Linked DNA regions of Homo sapiens. The protein of the gene in region 1 interacts with the protein of each later gene in a pairwise test. Each region holds a gene or a part of one and is shown in the gene's direction. Other genes may lie near its edges. The genes, in order: ASGR2, CD53, TMEM140, ORMDL1, SEC22A, MS4A13 and VTI1B.

Evidence for each region.
Region 2: the proteins of ASGR2 (region 1) and CD53 interact in binary tests that used the Homo sapiens proteins (3 or more experiments, as listed by UniProt).
Region 3: the proteins of ASGR2 (region 1) and TMEM140 interact in binary tests that used the Homo sapiens proteins (3 or more experiments, as listed by UniProt).
Region 4: the proteins of ASGR2 (region 1) and ORMDL1 interact in binary tests that used the Homo sapiens proteins (3 or more experiments, as listed by UniProt).
Region 5: the proteins of ASGR2 (region 1) and SEC22A interact in binary tests that used the Homo sapiens proteins (3 or more experiments, as listed by UniProt).
Region 6: the proteins of ASGR2 (region 1) and MS4A13 interact in binary tests that used the Homo sapiens proteins (3 or more experiments, as listed by UniProt).
Region 7: the proteins of ASGR2 (region 1) and VTI1B interact in binary tests that used the Homo sapiens proteins (3 or more experiments, as listed by UniProt).

What each region holds. Positions count from the first base shown.
Region 1 is NC_000017.11:7,104,823-7,108,322, reverse strand, and holds part of ASGR2 (asialoglycoprotein receptor 2), read left to right. Parts: intron 1-415; coding exon 416-487; intron 488-1,005; coding exon 1,006-1,092; intron 1,093-1,171; coding exon 1,172-1,323; intron 1,324-3,500. UniProt on the Homo sapiens protein: Mediates the endocytosis of plasma glycoproteins to which the terminal sialic acid residue on their complex carbohydrate moieties has been removed. The receptor recognizes terminal galactose and N-acetylgalactosamine units.
Region 2 is NC_000001.11:110,876,148-110,879,647, forward strand, and holds part of CD53 (leukocyte surface antigen CD53), read left to right. Parts: exon of another isoform or gene 1-1,487; coding exon of another isoform or gene 1,488-1,538; intron 1,539-3,500. UniProt on the Homo sapiens protein: Structural component of specialized membrane microdomains known as tetraspanin-enriched microdomains (TERMs), which act as platforms for receptor clustering and signaling.
Region 3 is NC_000007.14:135,154,572-135,158,071, forward strand, and holds part of TMEM140 (transmembrane protein 140), read left to right. Parts: intron 1-3,500.
Region 4 is NC_000002.12:189,777,840-189,781,339, reverse strand, and holds part of ORMDL1 (ORM1-like protein 1), read left to right. Parts: intron 1-3,500. UniProt on the Homo sapiens protein: Plays an essential role in the homeostatic regulation of sphingolipid de novo biosynthesis by modulating the activity of the serine palmitoyltransferase (SPT) in response to ceramide levels.
Region 5 is NC_000003.12:123,204,943-123,208,442, forward strand, and holds part of SEC22A (vesicle-trafficking protein SEC22a), read left to right. Parts: intron 1-1,358; exon of another isoform or gene 1,359-2,165; intron 2,166-3,500. UniProt on the Homo sapiens protein: May be involved in vesicle transport between the ER and the Golgi complex.
Region 6 is NC_000011.10:60,528,892-60,532,391, forward strand, and holds part of MS4A13 (membrane-spanning 4-domains subfamily A member 13), read left to right. Parts: intron 1-473; coding exon 474-569; intron 570-3,500. UniProt on the Homo sapiens protein: May be involved in signal transduction as a component of a multimeric receptor complex.
Region 7 is NC_000014.9:67,668,133-67,671,632, reverse strand, and holds part of VTI1B (vesicle transport through interaction with t-SNAREs homolog 1B), read left to right. Parts: intron 1-3,500. UniProt on the Homo sapiens protein: V-SNARE that mediates vesicle transport pathways through interactions with t-SNAREs on the target membrane. These interactions are proposed to mediate aspects of the specificity of vesicle trafficking and to promote fusion of the lipid bilayers.

The sequences.
Region 1 (3,500 bases):
AGGGAGGCAGGTGGGGACGGACGAGGTTAGTGCCAGGTGGAGAGGTTGGATCTGCGACACCCGGAGGTGAGGAAGGCACCATGTCTTGGGCCTGTGAGCAAATCGAGTGTGGCAGGCCCATCGGAGGGGCAGGCAGGTAAGGGGTGGCCAGAGAGAGGTGGGGAGGGGCCCGGCCACGCAGGTGAGCCGTGCTGACAGAGCGAGGCTTTATTTTGAGAAAATGGGGACCCATTGAAGGGACTGAAGCAGGAGAGTGGCCTGAGCCACTGTGGCAGTGCAGGGAGCCTGGGTGTGGTCCAGGAAGCCAGGAGGTGGACGCCTGCATCGCCCAGGACGAGGCGCTGGCCCCCGGTCCCCCAGCAGCATGAGGACGGAGGGAGGCTCAGCGGGGAAACAGCTGGCTTTCCGCTTCCAGGAGGCAGCGTGGGTGACAAGATCACATCCCTAGGAGCCAAGCTGGAGAAACAGCAGCAGGACCTGAAAGCAGGTCAGAGAGCCTCCGGGGTGTGTGCGCATGTGCGTGCATGTGTACGTGTGCGGTGTGTGTAGTGTGTACGTGTGCGGTGTGTGTAGTGTGCACGTGTGCGTGCGTGCGTGTGTGTGCCTGCAAGCATGTGTATCTGTGTCTCTCTCCGTATGTGTGGTGTGATATGTCATGGATCTGTGTGTGGTGTGTAGTGTGGTGTATATGTGTGTGTTGTGTGTGTATGCATGTGTGGTGGTGTGTGTGAGATGAGTCTGTGTGTGTGCGGTATGGTATATGTGTGTGTACGCATGTGATGTGTGTGGTGTGTCTCTTGGTGTGTTTGTGTGTGTGTGATGGATCTGTGTGTGGTGTGGTCTATGTGTGGTGTACATGTCTGTGGTGTGTGTGTGGTATGGTGTGTGGTGTGGTCTATGCATGGTGTACGTGTCTGTGGGTGTATATGCTTCCCCAGCCACAGGCTGGAGCCTAGCAGGTGGGGACCACACCTGCCGGCAGCACTTTCAGCCTGTCTGTCCTAGATCACGATGCCCTGCTCTTCCATCTGAAGCACTTCCCCGTGGACCTGCGCTTCGTGGCCTGCCAGATGGAGCTCCTCCACAGCAACGGTAGGGGTGGGGCCGTCTCCAGGCCCAGTGTGCCTGCCCCTCCGGCTGGATCTCATCTCCCTGCCCCCTGTCCCCTCAGGCTCCCAAAGGACCTGCTGCCCCGTCAACTGGGTGGAGCACCAAGGCAGCTGCTACTGGTTCTCTCACTCCGGGAAGGCCTGGGCTGAGGCGGAGAAGTACTGCCAGCTGGAGAACGCACACCTGGTGGTCATCAACTCCTGGGAGGAGCAGGTGAGGCCACGCTTCCCACAGGCAGGAGGAAGCCCTTGGAAGGCCTGCTCTGGGAGGCTGGATCAGGCTTATTTTATCCATTTTTTTTTTTTTTTTGAGATGGAGTCTCGCTCTGTCGCCCAAGCTGGAGTGCAGTGGCACGATCTCGGCTCACTGCAAGCTCCGCCTTCTGGGTTCACGCCATTCTCCTGCCTCGGCCTCCCAAAGTGCTGGGATTACAGGCACGTGCCACCATGCCCGGCTAATTTTTTTGTATTTTTAGTAGAGACGGGGTTTCACCGTCTTAGCCAGGCTGGTCTGGAACTCCTGACCTCATGATCCGCCCACCTCCGCCTCCCAAAGTGGTGGGATTACAGGCGTGAACCACCGCGTCTGGCTGAACTTCAAAGTATTTTAATGCCACAGTAGTTAAGCCATATGATACAGGGGCCAGAATATATGTATTGTTTGCATTACATCAGGCTCTGTTAGTACTTTACAGCATACTGTGAGTACGAACATATTTTGCTTTACTGATCAGGTTGAACTTGCCAACATTTCATCAGTTTTGACCTATAAAAATGTCAGTTTCATGCAGTTCAACCTAAGATCTCAGTGCTCTGTGATTTGGCACACAATAAGCTCATGACCACTACAACTTCGTGGTGGACGGTGCTTTCGTCACTATGAAGCCAACGTGTGTCCCAGTTAATGCTTTTTGCCTTGAATTTATCTGATATATAAATACCACGGTCCTTGATTTTTTTGTCACTTGCATTTGCTTGCTGTATCTCTGTCCATCCTTTTGTTTCTTACCTTTTTGAATCTCTGTTTTAAATTAATGATTCTCAGTCTTGACTGTACATTGCAATCTCTTCAAGAGTTAAAAAAAATATATCGACTCCTGGATCTCGCCCTTAAAAATGCTGATTTAGGCCGGGTGCAGTGGCTCACGCCTGTAATCCCAGCACTTTGGGAGGCCGAGGTGGGCGGATCATGAAGTCAGGAGTTCGAGACCAGCCTGGCCAAAATGGTGAAACCCTATCTGTACTAAACATACAAAAATTAGCCGGGCATGGTGGCGGGTGCCTGTAATCCCAGCTACTCAGGAGGCTGAGGCAGGAGAATCACTTGAACCCGGGAGGCAGAGGTTGTGGTGAGCTGAGACTGCGCCATTATACTCCAGCCCGGGTGACAGTGCGAGACTCTGACTCAAAAAAAAAAAAAAATGCTAATTTAAATTAATCTTGGCTTCATCCTGGACCATTCCCTGAGGGGCAGCACAGGGCAGCTAAGCTTAAGGTATTTCTCCTATATAGGTTTTTTGTTTTGTTTTGTTTTTGATACAAGATCTGGCTCTATCGCCCAGGTTGGAGTGCAGTGGCATGATCTCAGCTCACTGTAACCTGTGCCTCCCGGGCTCAACGGATTCTCCCACCTCAGCCTCCCAAGTAGCTGGGACTACAGGTGCACACCACCATACCTGGGTAGTTTTTTGCATTTTTAGTAGAAATGGTGTTGTGCCATGTTGCCCAGGCTGGTCTTGAACCCCTGGCCTCAAGCGATTCGCCCGCCTGGGCCTCCCAAAATATTGGGATTACAGGTGTCTGAGCCACTGTAATCCAAAAACTGCACCTGGCAGGTTTTGTTTTTGATGTTTAAAAATCTAATAAGTACCTTTTCTTTTAATAGGTGAGTGTCTCATTTACATTCTAATAGATATGTTTAACCCTAGTCCTTTCTTTTTTCTGCTTTACATGCTTCTTAATTTTCTTACAATTGCTATGTGAGAGGTGTTCTTTTTGTTTTCTTCTTTATGGTATTTTGGAAACTATGTAGTTTATTTAGAGTTATTCCAGTGATTACTTGTATAACTTTAAATAATAGGCTGAAAATTATTGGCTTTGAAAACTAAAAGTTTGTATAACTTCCATAGGAAAGGTGAGGAGACCAGGATACCTCTTATTCCCATGTGTCTGAGTCTTTCCTTTCCTAGGTTCCTTAAGTGTTGTATCTGAAAAAAAAAAAAAATTTTTTTTTTTTTTGAGATGGAGTCTTGCTCTGTCGCCCAGGCTGGAGTGCAATGGCGCGATCTTGGCTCACTGCAACCTCTGCCTCCCAGGTTCAAGCAATTCTCCTGTCTTAGTATCCCGAGTAGCTGAGATTACAGGCACCCGCCATCGTGCCTGGCTAACTTT
Region 2 (3,500 bases), on another chromosome or scaffold:
AATGAGAGCCAATAAATAGGAGCTGTCGCAACTGTCCAATCTGCTTACTTTTCAGGTAAAATGACTTGTCCAAAAATCATAAAATTACTTAATAGTTATTCAGAATGTCTTCTGATTCTCTATGGCATGCTCTTTCTTCTACATTATACTATAGTCCCTTTTCTAAGAGATTTTTTATTAAGTAAGCATCATTAGACTGTATTCTTCATTTACATAAATTCCTAGTGCATTTTAACATAAGCAAACATAAAAATACCACTTAATTGTAAATGTAATTGATCTTAAGCTACTATGCTAGCAAACTAAATACTTAACATATATTTTATTTTCCAAACCTTTTTGTTTGGCCTTTTCTATTTCAGGAGAACTAGATTGAGGAATAGGGGTAAGAAATGATTTTAATGCCTCATATCTTTTAAAACTTGTTAAAGTTTACTTGTTAAAGTAAATTTGAACTTATGGCTTACCTTATATCAGGAGCAAATAAAGGCATTCAAGAATTATTCCATAGTTTAGTCTTCTTAAAATAACTATTGTAGAATCTCAGTATTTATAACATAGAAGACAAATTGTAATGATTTTGAGATGAGAATCCCTTAGATCATTTATTTATTTCCCATCCCTTTAAAAAAATGACAAAATTCAGACTGATAAAAAGGTTGAAAAAATATTATGAAAAATTTCTAAATCCTTTTCACCCAGATTTCCAAAATATTAACATTTTACTTCATTTGTTTATTCTCTGGCTCTCTCATTTGACAGTAATTAGTAATTTGATTGATGCCCTTTCCCCTAAGAATGTTAGTGTATATTTCTACAAACAAATGCATTCTCTTATATAACTACTTTACAATGATCAAAACCAGGAAATTAACACTTATGCAATATAATTAACAATCTATGTACTTTATTCAGATTCCACCAATTACCTCTTTAATATTCTTTATAGCAAAAGGAAATTTCTAGTCACGCATTGCCTTCAACTGTCACTTTTGTCTCCTTTAGTCTGGAACACTTCCTGAATTTTTCTTGCCATTGATATTCTTGAAGAGTAAGGTCAGTTCTTTTTTAGAATGTTTCTCCATTTGGGTTTATCTGATGTTTCCTCATGATTAGATTCAGGTTATTTAAATTTTTGATAGGAATACCAACAAAGTGGCTTTTCTTATCCCACAAAGAGTCTTGCTTAATCTGAGCATAGCCAGCCTGCAGACACCATGGACAGGCCTCTAGCCGAGGGACCCCGTATGTAAAGTTCTGCATATTTCTACCTAGGAGGACGGAGAACCTCTGGTCTCTTGACTCTGTAACAGTGCTAACTGTTTTAGGTAACTGTTCCTGATTTACGAAGTAAGCTTATTAGAAGAGTCCCTGTCCCACCTCAGCTGTTATTAGTATCTTGCTAAGCTCCCACATGGGAGGAAGTGAGCTTCCAAGATCATCTGGATTTGTCTTTCTTCACTTTTTCTCTCCTCTTTTCTTCTTCCTTATTTCTCTCTTCTTCTATAAATCGCCAAATCCTCTCCCCTAACAGCGACCTAGAAGAAACAAAATTTTTATCAGATTACAATTTTAGGAAGGAATAAGATAACAGATATTCCTTGATTAGTTGATGGAGAGATGAATGGACACGAATACATGAGAGTTGATGCTTTGGCTTCGTTTTATTTTACCCCTACTTCTTCCTCTACAACTGCTTATTACTCTTCAAAAGGACGTACAGCGATAACTTTGATTGCACCTCAGCCACTGCTCACAGGAGTTCAAACGAGCTGATGAAAAATGGAAGGTCTTCTCCTGGATGCTCAACACATTGCACCAAATGAGTTGGGAAGTAATAGGCACAAAACCAGAGCCTGGGACGGTGGAAAGAGCATGGGCTTTGGAGGCTGAAAGAACTTGGCCTTCACCCTGCCTTTGATGATTCTTAGCTGGGTGACCTTGTGCCAGTCCTCGGCTTCTCTATTTGCAGAATGGGGCTAATGACACCTAAGTTGTCAGGCCGATTTGAGGATTATAAATAAGACATTTATGAGGAACTTAGTTATTTTGTGGGATTCAGTGAACTATCTATTATGTATCTCAGTTTGTTTGAGCAAGGCCTACATTTGGGAGCCCTCACTGGGGCAGATTTTCGCTCCTATTTAGAAAAACTTTTTCTTAATCACAGCCTCAATTGTCTTTGCTAAGGAACAAAGACTGCCACAGGCTCTGTGTAGGAAGGGATAGGGAGCCGTAATTACCTTGCGAATGCTCTTGTATGTAAATTGACAATCTGTATATAGAGAAATGTATATGGAGAAGTGTCTGGAAAGACGTTTGCCAAAATGCTAATGATGGTTATCTCTGGGAGGTGGGATTTCAGAAGATTTTATGCTTTCTTCTTTATACTTTTCTTTATTTTTTAAATGTAGAATTTTTTTTTAAAGAAAGCATGCTTACATTTGCTTTCTATTGCTGGATTTTTCAACTTTTTCTAATAGGTTTGAATGGAGTAAGAAATGTGTTCTAATAATATATATTCTCAATCTTAGCTTACAAAGGTGTTTCTCTACCAAACACTTCCATTCACTGAAAGAAAACAATTTATGCATCTTAAAGAAACTGTGCTTACATTTGCCTTTTATTGCTGGGATTTTCCAACATGTCTTAACAGAGTTCAGTGGAGAAAGAAATGTGTTCTAATAACGTATTCTCAATCTTAGCATACAAAGGTGTTTTTCTATTAAACGCTTTTCTTCACTGAAAGGAAGTCTTACAGAAACTGTACTTGCATTTATTTATTTATCTTTTATTACTGAAATTTAACATTTTCAATTTGTTCTAATAGGTACAAATGGAAAAAAAACATGTGCTTTTCTTTATTGTTTGATTTCTTTTTGTTTTTTTATTTTTTTTACAAATGGCACACGAAACCTCTTTTTAAAACGTATGAAACAAGCAAGGGATTATTCTTGCCCCGTGTATGTTTTATTCCTAAAAATCTGTTAGAAGCTAAGGGTTACCCTTAGGAATGGACTGGTAGGTAAGGTCTGAACTTGATCTTTCAGTGAGTTTTCACTGAATAAGGCAGATACACAGGGACTGAGCCATCCTGGAAATAGTATCTCATTTAGCCCTCAGAACAACCTCTGAGGTAAGTATTAATAACCCTATTTCAAAGATATAGTGAAAGACAGGTTAAGCAAGTTGCCCAAGGTCACACTTCTGATAAGTAGCACTAACAGAATTCAAAACTAGACCTGTCTGATTCCAAAGCTAGTGTTTATCAAACTGTGTTCCACAGAATACTATGTTATTTGACCTGTTAATAAGTGATCTGCAACATAAAACTAGGTTTGTAGTTATATAAACATATTTTTGTCTTAGAGACTCACAGTGCACATTAGCATATAACAGGTTTTTCTCTTACACTGTTTTTTTTTCTTTATCTTGGCTTTTGTTTGAGGAGCACTTACTAATATCTCATAAGCGTAATGGTCTATGTAGCACCAAAGCTG
Region 3 (3,500 bases), on another chromosome or scaffold:
GATGTTTTTAATTTGTCTTAATTTCTTCATTGACCCAGTAGTTGTTCAGGAGCATGCTGTTTAATTTCCATTATCTGTATAGTTTCCAAAGTTCCTCTTGGTATTGATTTCTAGTTTTATTCCACTGTGGTCTGAGAAGATACTTGATATAATTTCAATTTTTAAAAAGTTTGTTAAAACTTCTTTTGTGGCCTTACATGTGATCTATCTTGGAGAATGTTCCATGTGCTGACAAAAATAATGTATATTCTGTAGTTGTTGGGTAGAATGTTTTATAAGTCCATTTGGTCTAAAGTTCAATTTAAGTACAATGTTTCTTTGTTAATTTTCTGTCCCAATGATCTGTCTAGTGTTGTGAGTGGAGTGTTAAAAGTCCCCTACAGTTATTGTATTGCTGTCTACCTCTTTCTTTAGTGATATTTGTTTTGTTAATCTGGGTGCTTCAATGTTGGGTACATATATATTTAGGACTATTATATCGTCTTGCTGAATTTATCCCTACATCATTATACAATGACCTTATCTTTTTTCTTACTATTTTTAATTTAAAGTCATCTGTTTTATCAGATATAAGTATAGCTATGCCTGCTTGCTTTTGGTTTATAATTACATGGAATATCTTTTTCCACCCCTTTGTTTTCAGTCTATATGTCTTTATGGGTAAGGTTAGTTTCTTGTAAGCAGCATGGATCATGTTTTTTCATCCACTCTGCCAATCTGTATCTTTTAAGTGGAGCATTTAATCCATTTACATTCAAGGTTAATATGGATCTGTGAGACTTTGTTTCTGTTATATTGTTTATTGTTTTCAGGTTGTTTTATAGACTCTTTGTCTTTGCCTTTTTGACTTTGTGTTTTGATGAAACTCTGTCATGTTGCCATTTGATTCCTTTCTCTTCCTTTGTATGATTGTTTTATACAAACTATGAGTTTTATACTTCTGTATGTTTTTGTGATGGTGAATATCAACCTTTTGGCTGGGCATCGTGGCTCATGCCTTTAATCCCAGTGCTTTGGGATGCTAGGCAGGGGGATTAATTGATGCCAGGCAGGGGCATTAATTGATGGAAGGTGGTCAAGACCAACCGGGGCAAAATAGCAAGATCTTGTCTCTACAAAAAAATTAAAAATTAACCGGGCATGGTGGCACATGTCTGTATTTCTAGCTACTCAAAAGGCTGAGGCAGGAAGATTGCTTGAGCCCACGAGGTCAAGGCTGCAATGAACTGTGATTGCACTACTGTATTCCAGGTTGAGTGACAAAGCAAGACCCTCTATCAAAAATAATTAATTAAAAACACCATTCATTTCAGTGTTTAAGATCCTTTTGAGCATTTCCTGTAGTACCAGTCTAGTGGTGACAAATTCCCTCAGCATTTGCTTGTATGGGAAGGACTTTATTTCTCCTTTTATAAAGCTTATTCTGGCAGGATACAAAATTCTTGGCTGACAGACACACTGTTTTTTTTTTTCCCTTTAGCACTTTGAAAATGCCATCCCATTGTTTTCTGGCATGTAAGAATTCTGCTGAAAAGTCCTCAATTGGTCTGATGAGATTTGGGATTTCCTTTATAGGTGACTAGTCACTTTTGCTAATTTTAAAATTCTTTCTTTCACTTGACTTCAGACATTTTGAATATGCCATGGTGAGGTCCTTTTGCAATGTATTTTCCTGGGGATCACTGGGCCTCCTGTATCTGGATGTCTATTTCTTTAAATATGTTTTCTAAACTTTCTAATCTCTCTTCCCCCTCAGAAATACCAATAATTCATAAGTTCAGTTGCTTCTTGCAGTCCCAGACATCTCAAAGGCTTTATTCATTCTTTTTTATCCTTTTTTCCTCATTTTTGTCTGACTGGATTATTTCAAAAGTCCTGTCTTCGAGTTCTGAGATTCTTTCTTCTGCTTGGTGTAGTCTACTGTTGAAGTTTTTGAGCATATGGTGTATTTCCTTCAATGAATTTTTTAGTTCCAGAATTTCTGCTTGTTTTTATTTAAGATGTCTATCTCCTTGATAAATTTCTCATTTATATCCTGGATTAATTTTCTGATTTCTTTGTATTAGTTTTCAGATTTCTCTTGCACTTCATTGAGCTTCTTTAAAATCAATATTTTGAATTCTTTATCTAGCATTTTGAAGAATTCTCTTTGATTGGGATCTGCTGCTGCTGGACAGCTGTTGTGGTTCTTTGATGATTGTTACGGTTTGACTGTGTCCCCACCCAAATCTCAACTTGAATTGTAGCTCCCATAATTCCCACATGTTGTGAGAGGGGACGCCAGGGGAGGTAACTGAATCATGGGGGCTGGTCTTTCCCATGCTATTCTCGTGATAGTGAATAAGTCTCATGAGAACCGATGGGTTCATCAGGGTTTCTGCTTTTGCTTCCTCCTCATTTTCTCTTGCCACCACCATATAAGAAGTGTGTTTCACCTCCTGCCAGGATTCTGAGGCCTCCCTAGCCATGTGGAACTGTAAGTCCAATTAAACCTCTTTTTCTTCCCAGTCTCAGGTATGTCTTTATCAGCAGTGTGAAAATGGACTAATACAATGGTGTCATGTTTCTCTGCTTTTACATGTTTCCTGTATCCTTCCATTGATTTCTTTGCGTCTGGTGTAGCAGTTGCTTGTTCCAATTTTTTGAAATTGCTTTTATAAGGGAGAATTTTTTCCTGAGGATATATGCATGTTGTTAAGATGCTTTGACTTTGATTTTGGATGCCTGCAGTCGTGTGATCTTTCTATGACTTCTTCGGCATAGGGTCAGTGTTCTCTGTGATTTCCTCAGTGGGATAGAGTATGGTAATTAGCTGAGACTAAGTCCCCAGAAGTTTAGCTGGGACTTGGATGCCAACTGAGCAGCCTTTGGACCCCAGTGGTGGCAACAGTGGGGTAAGTGTGCCCTTTTTAGGCCCCACAGCAGCTTACGCTGCTCTGGTGGTTAGTGGGTCTTGGAGGGCTGATTCTTGGGCCTCCACATGGCTTGCTTAGAAGCTAGTAGTGGGAGTGGTGAGCCCAGTGTGTGGGCATGATCTCTAGCCCCTGAGCAGGTGGTGTCATGTGAGTGATGGCAGTAGCACTGTTGAAGCAGCCAACTGGGATCCAAGCAGTCCATGTTGGTGTTGCTGGAAGCTGTGATGGGTTGGGTGAGCTACTCCCCAGTCTCACAGCCACCTGTAGCAGGGTGGTGGGCACTGTTCTAAGTGTGCTTAGGAGAGCTTGGTCTTCCCTGTCCCTTTCCTACCAGGGTGGCAGCTGCAGCCACATTGCCTGATTGTTAATTCAGACTGGTTATGAATCAGCATTAAACTCTCAAAATGGTGCCAGCTGTGGGCTTGTGAACAGAGAAGGTGGGGCCCCTATCAGGTGAGCAGCATGGTCAAGAAGCTGTAGGGAGGGTGGTCTACTTGAGTCTCGGTCTCACAGCAACCCGTAGCAGGCACTGGGTATTGTCCTAGGTATGTGCGGGAGAGCATAGATTCCTTGTTTCTCCTTGAC
Region 4 (3,500 bases), on another chromosome or scaffold:
ATTTTAATTGAATCCAGTTTAGCAGTACATTTGTTGAAAGATATTTTTTAAAATGAACTTAAAGCATTAAGACAGGAAAACAGGAGAAATTGATTTTTAAAAATTAATATTTATTTTGGCCAGTCACGGTGGCTCATGCCTGTAATCCCAGTGCTTTGGGAGGCTGAGGTGGACAGATCACTTGAGCTCAGGATTTCAAGACCAGCCTGGGCAACATGGTGAAGCCTGAAATTCTGTCTCTACAAAAAATACAAAACCTTAGCCTGGCATGGTGGCAGCACATCTATAGTCCCAGCTATTCGGGAGGCTGAGGTAGGAGAATCGCTTGAGCCTGGGAGGTGGAGGTTGCAGTGAGCCAAGATCGTGCCACTGCACTCCAGCCTGGGTGACAGTGAGACCCTGCCTCAAATAATAACAATAATATTTATTTTCTATCTTCTGGAGTATATTTGAAGTTGACTGGAGGAGGATAAGAATGATGTGCTGGTAGACATGATAAATATGTGTCCATTTAGTCCATTTTATGTGATAGACTTTGTAAGAGCAAACGATGTTTTCTTTTAAATAGTGACTTCTCTGAAATATTTTACACTAATCATCTCACTTTTGTTGAAACTTCCTTTGGCTTCTATAGGATCACTTTCACCGGCATATATTTCTGACCTTCTCTTTCTTCTTATGGGGTCTTCCTTCTCTTTTCCTCTCTTAAATATTTCTATTCCCAAGGTTCTTTTCTTCATCTCTTCTTATGCTATGTATTCTACCTAGGTTACTTCATCTACCCATATTTTCAGTTTCTACCTGTAGAATAAGGATGCTCCTATTTATTTTTATCACCAGATTACTTTGCACCTTAAACCAAACAAGTATAAATGGAACTTATCTTATTCCTGATTACTCCCTTACCACCCACAATCTGATCCTCTGGCTTCACTACTAATCTTATCTAAAGGCCAAGCCAGACAGCTGAATGTTAATGGTAAAGCAATTAATATACAGGTTGAGCATCCCTAATCAGAAACCCAAAATAGAAAATGTTCTAAAATTAGAAACTTTTTTAGCACCAGTGTTGTGCCACAAGCGGAAAATTCCATACCTGACTTCCTGACAGGTTGCAATTAAAATGCAATCAAAACTTTATTTCATGCACAAAATTATTAAAGATACTATATAAAATTATCTTTAGGCTGTGTGTGTATGATGTATATGAAACATAAATGAATTTCATGTTTAGACTTGGGCCCTGTCCCCAAGATATCTCATTATGTATATGCCGATATTCCAAAATCCAAAACAATCCAAAATCTGAAACACTTCTGCTCCAAAGCATTGTGGATAAGGAATACTCAACCTGTAATGTATAGTCCAAACAGGCTGTTTAGAGAGTAAAATGGAGCTTTGGTAATAACTACTACAAGAGATTAGGTATAATCAGAACCATCGTATGCAAACAAGAATACAAGGTCACCTAAGTCTTAGGATAACTTCTTTTCCTTTATATTCCATATCCATTTGCTCAGAGCACTGTCTTCTACTGCTTTACTCTCAACTTGATCCCCATACCCTCATTTTTTCCTCAAGTAAATTACTCAGATAAATCAAATAGTCTTCTTGATGCTTCTCTACCCTTCTCCATTCCAGCTTGGCAGAGTGATGTTTTAAAAATGCATGTTTGCTCAAGTCATACTCTAAGTCATTCAGTGATCATCCATTGCAGTCATGGTAAAATCCAAGTTTCTTGTGTGACATATAAGACCAGTTGATAACAGTGCAGAAACAAGGAGACTTCACCTTGTCTCAACCATCTCTAAATAGAGGCTATACACTAGCAATAAAGAAAATCATCTTGCTCTCATTTTATTGTTTTGGCTTAAGCTTTTCTACTATATTTTCTTTTCACCTGGACCAAGTACTCTTTTGTTTTTAAGAGACTGGCGTGATCATAGCTCCTCCCACCTTAGCTTCCCAATAAATTTGAGGACTGCAGGCACATGCCACCACACCCGGCTAATTTGTTTTTATTTTAATAGTGATAGGCTCTCACTATGTTGCCCAGGCTGGTCTTGAACTCCTGGCCTCAAGCAGTCCTTCTGCACCATCCTCCAAAAGTGCTGGGATTACAGGCATGAGCCAGCATGCCCAGCCATTTTGTTTTTCTTACAGAGACAGGGTCTCACTCTGTTACCCAGGCTGGAGTGCAGTGGCATGATCATAGCTCACTGCAGCCTCGAACTCCTGGTCTCAAGTGATCTTCCTGCCTCAGCCTTCCAAGTAGCTAGGACTATAGGTGTGTGCCACCATGCTCAGCTGATTGACTGATTGAGATGGGGGTCTTGCTGTGTTACCCAGTCTAGTCTCAAACTCCTGACCTCAAGTGATCCTCCTGTCTCAGCCTCCCAAAGCATGAGTGAGCCATAGTACTCAGGGTCTACTTTTATTTTTTTTGAGATGGAGTCTCTCTGTGTCATCCAGGCTGGAGTGCAGTGGCGCAATCTTGGCTCACTGCAACCTGCACCTCCCAGGTTCAAGCAATTCTCCTGCCTCAGCGTCCTGAACAGATGGGACTACAGGCATGTGCCACTACACCTGGCTAATTTTTGTATTTTTAGTACAGATGGGGTTTCAACATGTTGGCCGGGCTGGACTTGAACTCCTGACCTCAGGTGATCCACCTGCCTTGGCCTTCCAAAATGCTGGGATTACAGGTGTGAGCTACCATGCCCGGCCCAGTCTCTACTATTTTAATACCTCTCCCTCCTTCCTGCTCTGCCTGATTTCCTACAGCAAAACTGTCCCTCCAGGAATCTACACAACTCCCATGCTGCATTCTTTTATCATGTGTTTGTCATTGTTTTATAATTAGCAGTTTATCTCTTTATGTTTTAATTTTTGTATCGCTAAGAACGTATTTAAATGTTTGCCGAATAAGTTAGTCCTTTTTTTTTGAGACGGAGTTTCACTCTGTCACCCAGGCTGGAGTACAGTGGCACGATCTTGGCTCACTGCAACCTCCCCCTCCTGGGTTCAAGCGATTCTCCTGCCTCAGCCTCCTGAGTCGCTGGGATTACAGGTGTGCACCACCATGCCTGGCTAATTTTTGTATTTTTAGTACAGACAGGGTTTCACCATGTTGGTCAGGCTGGTCTCGAACTCCCAACCTCAGGTGATCTGCCCGCCTCGGCCTCCCAAAGTGCTGAGTGTGAGCCACCACGGTTTAGATGCCATCCCTGTACCACCACCACCCCCTAACCGTGTTTCAAGTTGGTTGACCATGGACAAATGATTGGTAATTGACATTGTATAGAAAAGCAAACTTCTGATTTATTTGTTATTAGTTCACCACACTAAAAACTTAATTAGCCATCGGAGTTGCAATTACATGACTCCAAATTTAAGTTTCCTTTGAATATAGCCACATTAAACCAATTAAAAATCTGAAGTACATATTGAATGCCTTTAAAAATGAGAAAATGGACCTAATTGTTACACCCGGTTAGAAA
Region 5 (3,500 bases), on another chromosome or scaffold:
TTCCCAACCACAACCCTCCTTAAGACCTTAAAGATACTTTAACCTAGCTTAGGCCTGACATGGACAGATTTCCTTTTCTGCTAGCACAGTCCAGATAAGATTAGTTTAAAAAAAAACAAACTATATTATGAATCCGTGGTAAAAAGAAAAAAAGTAGGGGTATGTTTATTGAATTGATGGAGAGACAGCTTAGCCTAAGGTGGTTGGAATCTGTCTACAAATTAGTTAAGCCTGACGTTGATCATTGGACATTCATCCCCGTTTGTCAGGCTTAAATTCAAGTGCTTTGGATGCTGAATCAAATTACTGTGGTAGAAAGAGGTTTAATTTTTTCCCTAAGAAAAATCTTATCTATGGATAAGTAGAAACCATTCTCTGACAACCTTGTAATAATTTTGACAGGGAATGTAACTACTGTGTTCTGCTTTTGGTTAAAGGCTAAAGTACATATTAGGAAAATTTGAGGCTGGGCGCAGTGGCTCACACCTGTAATCCCAGCACTTTGTGAGGCCGACGCAGGTGGATCACTTGAGGTCAGAATTTGAGACCAGCCTGGCCAACACAGTTAAGCCCCATCTCTACTAAAAATACAAAAATTAGCCAGGCATGGTGGCGGGCACCTGTAATCCCAGCTACTTGGCAGGATGAGGCAGGGGAATCGCTTGAACCTGGGAGGCAGAGGTTGCAGTGAGCCATTGCACTCCAGCCTGGGCAACAGAGTGAGACCCTGTTTCAAAACAAAACAAAACAAAACAAAAAAACAACAAAAAAAGGAGTATTTGAAATGTAAGTTTGTCCAACTTTAGTTTTCCAGTTAGTGAAGTGGTGGGCAACACACCTGCATTGTTTGCTCTTTTCAACTGAGTTTCTCTAATTGAGGAGTGATGTTTCTTGATGGTAGGACTCTTCATTCCTGCTATCTGGCATAATTCATGGGACACATTAGATATTCAGTAAATGTTTGGTAAACGAATGGAACTTACAAATTGTATTCTTTTTACAGTATGTGTTTTAGAAAGCATGGATCATATATTTATTGATCTGTCCTCCAAGTCACTAAAGAATAACTTTGAAGACTACATGAAATTTGGCAACCTATTAATGAAGTCTATTCATAATATTTCTATTAGGATCCTAGAGAGGCCAGACATAAAATAATACAGTCTACTTTTATTTTACTTTTTGAGACAGGATCTCTCTCATCACCCAGGTTGGACTGCAGTGGCACAATCATAGCTCACCATTGCCTTGAACTCCTGGGCCTGCTTCAGCCTCCCCAAAGCAAGTACTATAGGCGTGTGCCACCATGCCCAGCTGATTTTTAATTTTTTTTATAGAGACAGAGCCTCACCATGTTTCTAGGTTGGTCTTGAACTCCTGGCCTCAAGCAGTGTTGGGATTATGGGTATAAGCCATGGCACCCCATCCAATCTGCTTTTAAATACTAAAATGTGGGTATTTAGAACTGCAAGTTACAACTCACCCTCAAATTAATTCCCAGAATGGTTATTGTGTTGCAGTGTACTTCTGGAAAGACAACAGTTTTATAGTTAAATAATAAACGCTTAAGGGGATAGAGTAAGACATTTTCCTACTTTCTTACACTTAGGCTAAATGTTACAATTGTGATTTAATAATTAAGTAAAACATGGTAAAAAAAAAATTAAAGAGGGGTTTATAGTATAGATATCTCTTCAGGGATCCCAACTTTTTCATGCTACTGCTTTTAGGAGAGAAAAAAACTAGATGAATGGAAAAAAACACCAATTGGGATATGTCACACTGGGACTTCAGTTTGAAGACTCCACTGTAGTAAAAAGACTAATTTGCTTCTGGATATTTTTCTCTTTAAATGAATGGAGAGGCTGGGCGTGGTAGCTCATGCCTGTAATCCTAGTACTTTGGGAGGCTGAGGTGGACAGATCACTTCAGGCCAGGAGTTTGAGACCAGCCTGGCCAACATGGCGAAACCTCATCTCTACTGAAAATACAAAAATGAGCTGGGTGTTGTGGCGCATGCCTGTAATCCTAGCTACTCGCGAGGCTGAGGCATGAGAATTGCTTGAATCTGGGAGGTGGAGGTTGCAGTGAACTGAGATCGCACCACTACACTCGTCTGGGTGACACAGTGAGACCCTGTCTCTGAAGGAGAAAAATATTAAAGGGTAATGACACAGTAACACCTAGAGATTTCTCCTTTTTCCTCATGAAAAGAGGAAAAAGGGATAGTGAACTTAATGCATTAGATTTATTAGTTGGGTTAATTTTTATTGTCAGATCAGTTATCACCATGAATGGGAAGTCATATTTTGACTTCACACAGCAGTGAAAACTATCAGCTCCTGATTTACAAGCTTTGTAACAACTGGTTTTCTGTGGTATTTTTTTTTATATATATTACTCATTTTTTCCTTTTTGGAATGAGATAATATTGACCTAGATTAAGTGGGCAGGTAAGGATTAATTTAGTCTCTAAGATACAATATTTTTGGAAAAATGCCTGTGAGATTTTTATCAGATTTTTGAATTTTCACCAGTTGCCTCACCACTAGTGAGGAAGCCTTTAGTGACATTGTGCTTTGATGGCCTGACAGAGAAGAGTTATCACTTAATCTTAGATAGTGAACATGTTTTAATTTAATGTTTTAAAAAGTATGGGCCTTAGACAATAAGCAAATTGTCAAGCCCTATCCCACAGTCAGTGGTTCAGAATTTTGAGGGCAGAGCTCAGAAATCTGCATTTTTAACTAAACTTTCAACTTCTTATGCAAGCTAAAGTTTGAGAGCCACTGTGTATTTTATGAAAGGTTGAGTGACTGTTGACCTGAGTTCCTTCAGACTCAGGCCTGTGAAGTCCTTTCATCTGTTTTTGTAAAGCAAGAAGAGAATCCAATAAAATAGGCCATTAAGATTTACTTTCTGGTAAAAAGATTGAGAACAACATTAAAACCAATATTCCTTTAGCTTTAGGATTTATTTTAAATAATTTTTTTCTGATTATAAAAGTAGTATATGTCTACTGTGAATATTGAGAACATTTAGGAAATTATAAAATAATAATAACCAATAATACCATTTCTTAGAGGTGAGCATATTCTTAATTTGGCATCTTTTTCTGCATCCGTTTTTCAATCCCTTTTTCCTTCTCTTTATCTTCGTCTCTTTATCCTTATGTTTGTGTAAAACAACATTTGCAATTTTTATCCTACTTTTTTCTCCTTAACATGTAAGCATTTTACCACATTATTAAACTTTCTCCACAAACATAACTTTTAGTTGCTGCATTATATTCTGTTATATGAATATACTATAATTTACTTAACCATCACCATTTTATAGGATATTTAGATTGCTTTCAGTTATTTGAGTGGAAGAATGTCTTTCTGTTTAAAATTTTGCCTGGATTTCTGATTATTTTTCTCAAGACAGGTATATATTTAAATTTATTGAGGTTAAAAGGTATGCCTTCAGACTCTTGTTGAAATTGCCAAATCATTTTG
Region 6 (3,500 bases), on another chromosome or scaffold:
ATTAGAGCAATATATATGTGAGAGTTTTATCACCATGTATGTAAATTTAAGAAGGGTTGTGATTAATAATAGCTGTTTTAATAGAAAAGGATTGCTTGATAAATCTGTTGGTGGCCATCTTATCATTAGAGACAGGAAAGTCAAATCTTACTAACTGGAGAGTTTAGATAGTGAGCTGTGCCAGCGACTCTGTAAAAGCTGTCAGAAGTGAGACAAGAATGCTAAGCAATGGAGATCAAATGCAGAAGCCACAGATGCTGAATTGAGGAACTGAAAGCTAGGGAAAGTGTAGCAGAGGGCAAAGGAGTAGAAATGTCTAAGGAAATCAAATGGTGAAAGGTTTATCTGTTCTTATTTTCCTTCCTTTTTTTTTTTTTTTTTTTTGACTCTCATACCAGTAGCTCCTTCCATGATCATGTTTGCACTCACTAAAGATAATAGCATTAAGATTTCTCCCTGTTTTTTGGTTATAGAAACTTGGGAGGGAAGTATCACGTATTTTACTGTTCTTCTACGGTTTGGAATTTTCTATTGCACTTACACACTCAATATACAGCTGTTCCAATTTGGTAAGTGTTTACCCACTCTCTGGCAAATCAAAAGATGTTGATTTCTAGTAACTACACTCTATGAGAAGATGAAGTGCACTGATACAAAATATTTAGAACTAATATAAATGGAATGTGTGATATTGCCTTTATTTTTTATTTTTGTTATTTTATAAATAGCATAAAATTATAACAGTAATACATGAAACTACATTTAAAAGCAAAAAGCATATAGAGTAAAAAGTGATTTTTCTTTAATATAGTTCTCATCGTATCCACACATCCAATTCTATACAAAAAAAGACGAATACACACACATTCTCTTTACTAATTGTATGTATTATATTCACATTATTTTGTCACATTCATTTTTTGCAATGATTAGAAATATCTTTCCATTACAAAACATATCTAAATAATGCCTTTTATTGCCTTCATTGTTTTTCTTAGTATTTAGCATTCCCTAATTACTGCATATGTAGCTTGGTTTCCAGTTTTTTCTAAATTATAAACAATGATGCAGTGAACATTTGAGTATAAATATTTTTGCATACAGGACCACTAATTCTTTAGGTGTTTGATTCCTAGAAATGTCATTGCAGGATCAAGTGTAACAACATCCCAAAATGCTATAACAACTCACAAAAGTTTATGAGAATGATTATTTTCTCACAAGCTTAAAAGACTACATATCTAACATTCATTCATTCTTTCTCAAATATTTACGGAGAGCATGCTATTTGCTAGGCATTGTCATAGGCACTAAGGATGCAATGATTAACAAAACAATGGCCTCTCCATTAGGGAGTTTGCATTCCACTGGGGGAGAAAGGCAATAAACAAACACATAAAATTATAAAATGTCAAGAACTGAAAAATGTTATGAAGTAAAATAAAGCAAACTAAGGAGATAAGGCAAGATTATTTTATGTAGGATGGTCAAGGAAGACTACTATGATCAACAACTGATTGAAATACAGAAACAACTATAAGACTACATGGTAAAAGGATTTCTGAAGAGAGGGAATGAGTTGCATTTCCAGAATGGCTGATTGAGGACATGGTAACTCTCCCTAAAAATGAAATTATAAAACTGAACAAAATTGTCAATGAACAACCTTCTAAAGATTCAGGAAGTTGACCAAGCATACAAGAACTTGAGAAGTGTTTATTTAAGAAAATCTACTGGACCTCAGTAAGAACAGTGCATGTCTGTGGCATGTTAGCTTGGGACTGTTCCCACTCTTCCCACCTGATATGGTTAGGCTTTGTGTCCCCACCCAAATCTCATCTTGAATTGTAATCCCCAGGTTTTGAGGGAGGAACCTGATGGGAGGAAACTGGATCATGGGGGCAGTTTTCCCCATGCTATTCTCATGATAGTGAGTGAGTTCTCATGAGATCTGATAGTTTTATAAGTGTTTAGCAAGTTCCTCATTCACTCAGTCTTCTTTCTCCTGCTGCCATGTGAAAAAGGTCCTTGCTTCCCCTTTGCCTTACGCCATCATTGTAAGTTTCCTGAGGTCTCCCAAGCCATGTGGAACTGTAAGTCAATTAAACCTCTTTCCTTTATAAATTACCCAGTCTTGACAAGTTTGTTATAGCAGTGTGAAAACAGACTAATATACTACCCCACCCTCAGATTCCGTTACGCAGAAGTTTACCTTGGTGGGTCAGACTGTGAGGCCCAGCAGCCTCATTGCTTGAGATGACTAGTTTTATTTGGAACAGAGCTCAGAAAGTTCCAAGACCAAAAGCGTTATTAAAACAACAGTAATCCCAGTGACAAACAAGCAGATAAGGCCAAGGTCACTCCTAGCCTGACTAAGATCACAATACTTGTTGGGGCAAAAAATTTACTAGCAACCAACCAGAAACTCAACAGAGAAATTTGAAGAACAGGACAGCCACAGTGGACCTTGATAACTTCCTACTTTTCCCCTGTAGTCTGGAAGAATATAAATATGTGCAAAGCTATACACATACTAAGGAGACAGGAGAAGGTCCTAGTGAGCCCTTGGTTGAACAAGAGGCCTTGCAAAAATAAAGTAAAAGCTGGGGCAACCTCAACTTTGAATATATTGCTCAAGCTACACTGATTCATTGGGAAAGGGTAGAAGTCTTACTGGCTCAAGGTGTCTAATACTTTCCTAGAGCTTCTATAACAAAGCACCACAGACTGTAGCTTAAACAACAAACTTATTTTCTTACAATTCCAGAGGCTAGAAGTTCAAGATCAAGGTGTTGGCAGGGTTAGTTTCTTCTGAGGCATCTCTCTTTGGCTTTCACTTGGCTGTCTTCTCCCTGTGTTTTCACATGGTCTTCTCTTTATTTGTCTGTGTCCTAGTCTCTTCTAAGCTCACCAGTCATATTAGATTAGGGCTCATTCTAATTACCTTATTATAACTTCATTGCCAGTTAAAAGACCCTATTTCCAAATACAGTCACATTCCAAGGTACTGGGAGTTAGGACTTCCAGTATTCCAAGATACTAACCACTGGTATTGCTAACCACCACTCCTGGGAAATGAGGCAATCAGAATCTAAAATTGCTACCATATATTATCTAAAATGTCCAGTTTTCAACAACAAAAAGTATGCAAATAATAATAGTTACCCATAGGGTTCAAAACAACACTTAATAGACATAGCGTCTTTGAGCAAGGGAAGAATAAATGTTGGACTTAACAAAGAAAGGCTTCAAAAATTAGTAAAGTAGGTTGGAGGAGCCAAGATGGCCGAATAGGAACAGCTCCGGTCTACAGCTCCCAGCATGAGCGACGCAGAAGACGGGTGATTTCTGCATTTCCATCTGAGGTACCAGGTTCATCTCACTAGGGAGTGCCAGACAGTGGGCGCAGGCCAGTGTGTGCACGCACCGTGCGCGAGCCGAAGCAGGGCGAGGCATTGCCTCACCTGGGAAGCTCAAGGGGTCAGGGAGTTCCCTTTCCG
Region 7 (3,500 bases), on another chromosome or scaffold:
TTACATTCACCTTTGTTGTCTACCCAGCCTTTTTCTCCATCCTGCAAAGAGGACAATCAGAAATATGTGAATTTCTTTTCTTTTTTCTTTCTTTTTTTTGTTTTTTTGAGATAGAGTCTTGCTCTGTCGCCCAGGCTGGAGTGCAGTGGTACAATCTCAGCTCACTGCAACCTCCACCTCCTGGGTTCAAGTGATTCTCATGCCTCAGCCTTCCGAGTAGCTGGGATTACAGGCGCATGCTACCACACCTAGCCAATTTTTGTATTTTTAGTAGACACGGGGTTTCACCATGTTGGCCAGGCTGGTCTCAAACTCCTGACCTCAAGTGATCTGCCCGCCACGGCCTCCCAAAGTGCTAGGATTACAGGTGTGAGCCACTGCGCCCAACCACAAAATACTCTAAGTTGCTGGTAACAGACATAGTTGTTTAATGGATAAGTAAAGAAAATATATACATATCCCTAGAATTATAATAAGTCCAACAACTTTACCTCTTATTCACTACCTCATTCACACTGCTCAATAAATGTTTGTTGAATAAATTGAATTTATCTAAGCAAACACATGGTGCCTCATCTCTGAATCCTCTTTTTCTAGTTCAGAGACCACATCATAAAGTTTTCAGAGCTTTAATGCCCATCATGAATTATTAGGCACAGCATAATGTACATAATACAGTCCTTGCATGTAGCTTATGCTCTGTAATTGAATTCAGTCATTTTTCAATAAACACTGAGAATTATTATGTATCAGCCACTGTCTAGGCTCTGAGGACTTCCAGAGTTCTTACCTTAAAAAGAAACAAACGGCCGGGCACGGTGGCTCATGCTGGTAGTCCCATCACTTTGGGAGGCCTAGGCGGGCGGATCACAAGGTCACGGATGGAGACCATCCTGGTCAACATGGTGAAACCCCATCTCTACTCAAAATACAAAAATTAGCTGGGTGTGGTGGCATGTGCCTGTAGTCCCAGCTACTCAGGAGGCTGAGGCAGGAGAATCGATTAAACCCAGGGGGCAGAGATTGCAGGCGACAGAGCGAGACTCTATCTCAGAAAAAAAAAAAGGTAACAAACCTTACAACCAAGTGTGTGATTAATCCTAAAATAAAGTTCTCTGAGACCATAAAAAGGGCTGGACTTGAGCATGGGGAAGAGGGGGAAGCTTCAAAAAACTTCAAACTGAATATAAGGGATTGAATGGGAGTTTGCTAGATGGGAAATGCGAAGAGGCAACACAGGAGTAAAACATGGAATACTCCCAACTCTGGAGCTTAGAATGTATGTGGGAAAGTAGTAGTAGAGGGGCAGGTGAAACAGCCAGATTGTGAGGGGATCTCAGTGTCACATTGAGACATTTGGACTTGATATGGAAAGTCAGTAAAGGACGTAAAGCAGTTGATTGATGTGGATTTTCTTTTAGAAGGAGGGCATTAATGGCTAGACAGGACAAGAGAGAGCACAAGAATCTGGGTACAGGGGACTGTGTTAAGAGCCTTTTGGGCAGTCACCTTGCTAACGGGAATTTGTTTGACACAGGTTCTCACTCCTGTCTCCCGTCATCCAGGCTGGAGTGCAGTGGCACCATCACTGCTCACTGCAGCCTTGGCTTCCCGGGCTCAGGTGATCCTCCCACCTCAGCCTCCCGAGTAGCTGGGACCACAGGTGCATGGCACCAGGCCTGGCTAATTTTTTGTATTTTTAGTAAGGGTCTCCCATGTTATCCAGGCTGTTCTCGAATTCCTGGGCTTAAGTGATCCACCCACCTCAGCCTCTTAAAGTGCTGGGGTTACAGGGGTGAGCTACAGTTCCCGGCCCAAGAGTTGGTTTTGAGGCAGAAATTAACCAGCCTCAATGGATATGAGGAGTGAGGGAGAAAGGTTCCAGGGTGTCTGCATTTTTTCACTTGGTCAACTGGGTGAATGATGAACTTAAGTAAGAAACATAAGAGGAGAAGCAGAGTTTGGGTTGTGGATGAGAATATCAAAGGTACCTGTAGAACAGAGATCATGACATAATATAGCCTTACAAAATGTTTCTTCTTCTGCCATTAAAAATAACATACGGGGGCCAGGTGTGGTGGCTCGTGCCTGTAATCCCAACATTTTGGGAGGCTGAGGCAGGAGGATTGCATGAGGCCAAGAGTTGGAGACCAGCCTTGGCAACATGGTGAGACCTATCTCTACAAAAAAAAAAAAGCTGAGTAGTGTGGTGCTGCTCACTTGTAATCCCAGCTGCTCAGGAGGCTGAGGCAGGAGGATCACTTGAGTCTAGCAGTTTGAAGTTTTAGTGAGCTGTCATCACATCATTGCACTCCAACCTGGGTGACAGAGCAAGACTCCGTCTCAAAAAAAAAAAAAAAAATTATGAAGAAGTATGTGAATTGAGAGGCCATATAGTATAATATTTAACAGCAAGAATTCAAGAGCCAGATTGCCTGAGTTTAAATTCACCTTCTAGTAGCAGTGTGACCTTGGACAGGTTACTTTAACCCAATTAGTTTTTCCTGCCAAATGGGGATAAATCATAGTATCTACTTCACAGGGTTTTTGTGAGGAGTAAATGAGTTAATATATGTAAAGTCCTTAGAATACTGCCTGATAATAGAGCTACTAGCCATTTTATTTAAATGAAAATTAAGAATACCAGCCCTGTATACAACTATTCTTACCTTTTTTTTTCCAGAGTACTTATTTTCTGACATATTAGACACTTTCCACATTTATGATATTTACAGTATATTGTTTGTCTTCCTTTCACTAGGACAGTGGTTTCATTGTGGTCCATGAACCAGCTGCATCAGCATCATTTGGGAACTTGTTAGAAATGCAAATTCTCAGGCCCCACCCCAGACCTATTGAATCAGAAAGTTTTAACAAGCAGTGTGTTTTCACAGCCCTCCAGGGGGTTTCTGATGAAGGCTAAGTGTGAAAGCCACTGAGCTAGAATATAAGCTCAATGTTGTCTTTTTTTCACTGTGTTTCCTAAGTACCAGAACAGTGCCTAGCACAGACTAGGTGCTTCATAGATACCTATTGGATGATGGAATGTGTGAATTGTTGGAAAGAAAATATTGATATATGATTGTGATTTATTTCTATTCTGTTGTCCACATTTTCATTACTTTAAAAATGGGTATATTCCACCTATTAAAACAACAAAAACTGTATTTCTCCAAAGTACAGTCTCCATTCACTTTCTGCCTTTGAATGATACTAGAGACAATGTGTCCTGTTTTAGGAAGTTTTTGTGTAACTGTCCATTACCACTTACAATAATTATTAATCCATTTAATATTTCATTAAATACCTATGGCCATAATTTCTACTCTTGGTTTTACAACCTCTGAAGAGGTCTCTCCAATTACCTCAGAGTACTATAATGTGCTATAATTTCTTAATCTAATCAATGTTAAATGCCTGTGGTCATGATTTCTAGTTTTGGTTTTGTCATACCTGAAGACATCTCTCCATATGTCTTAACGTGTATCATAAAAATATTG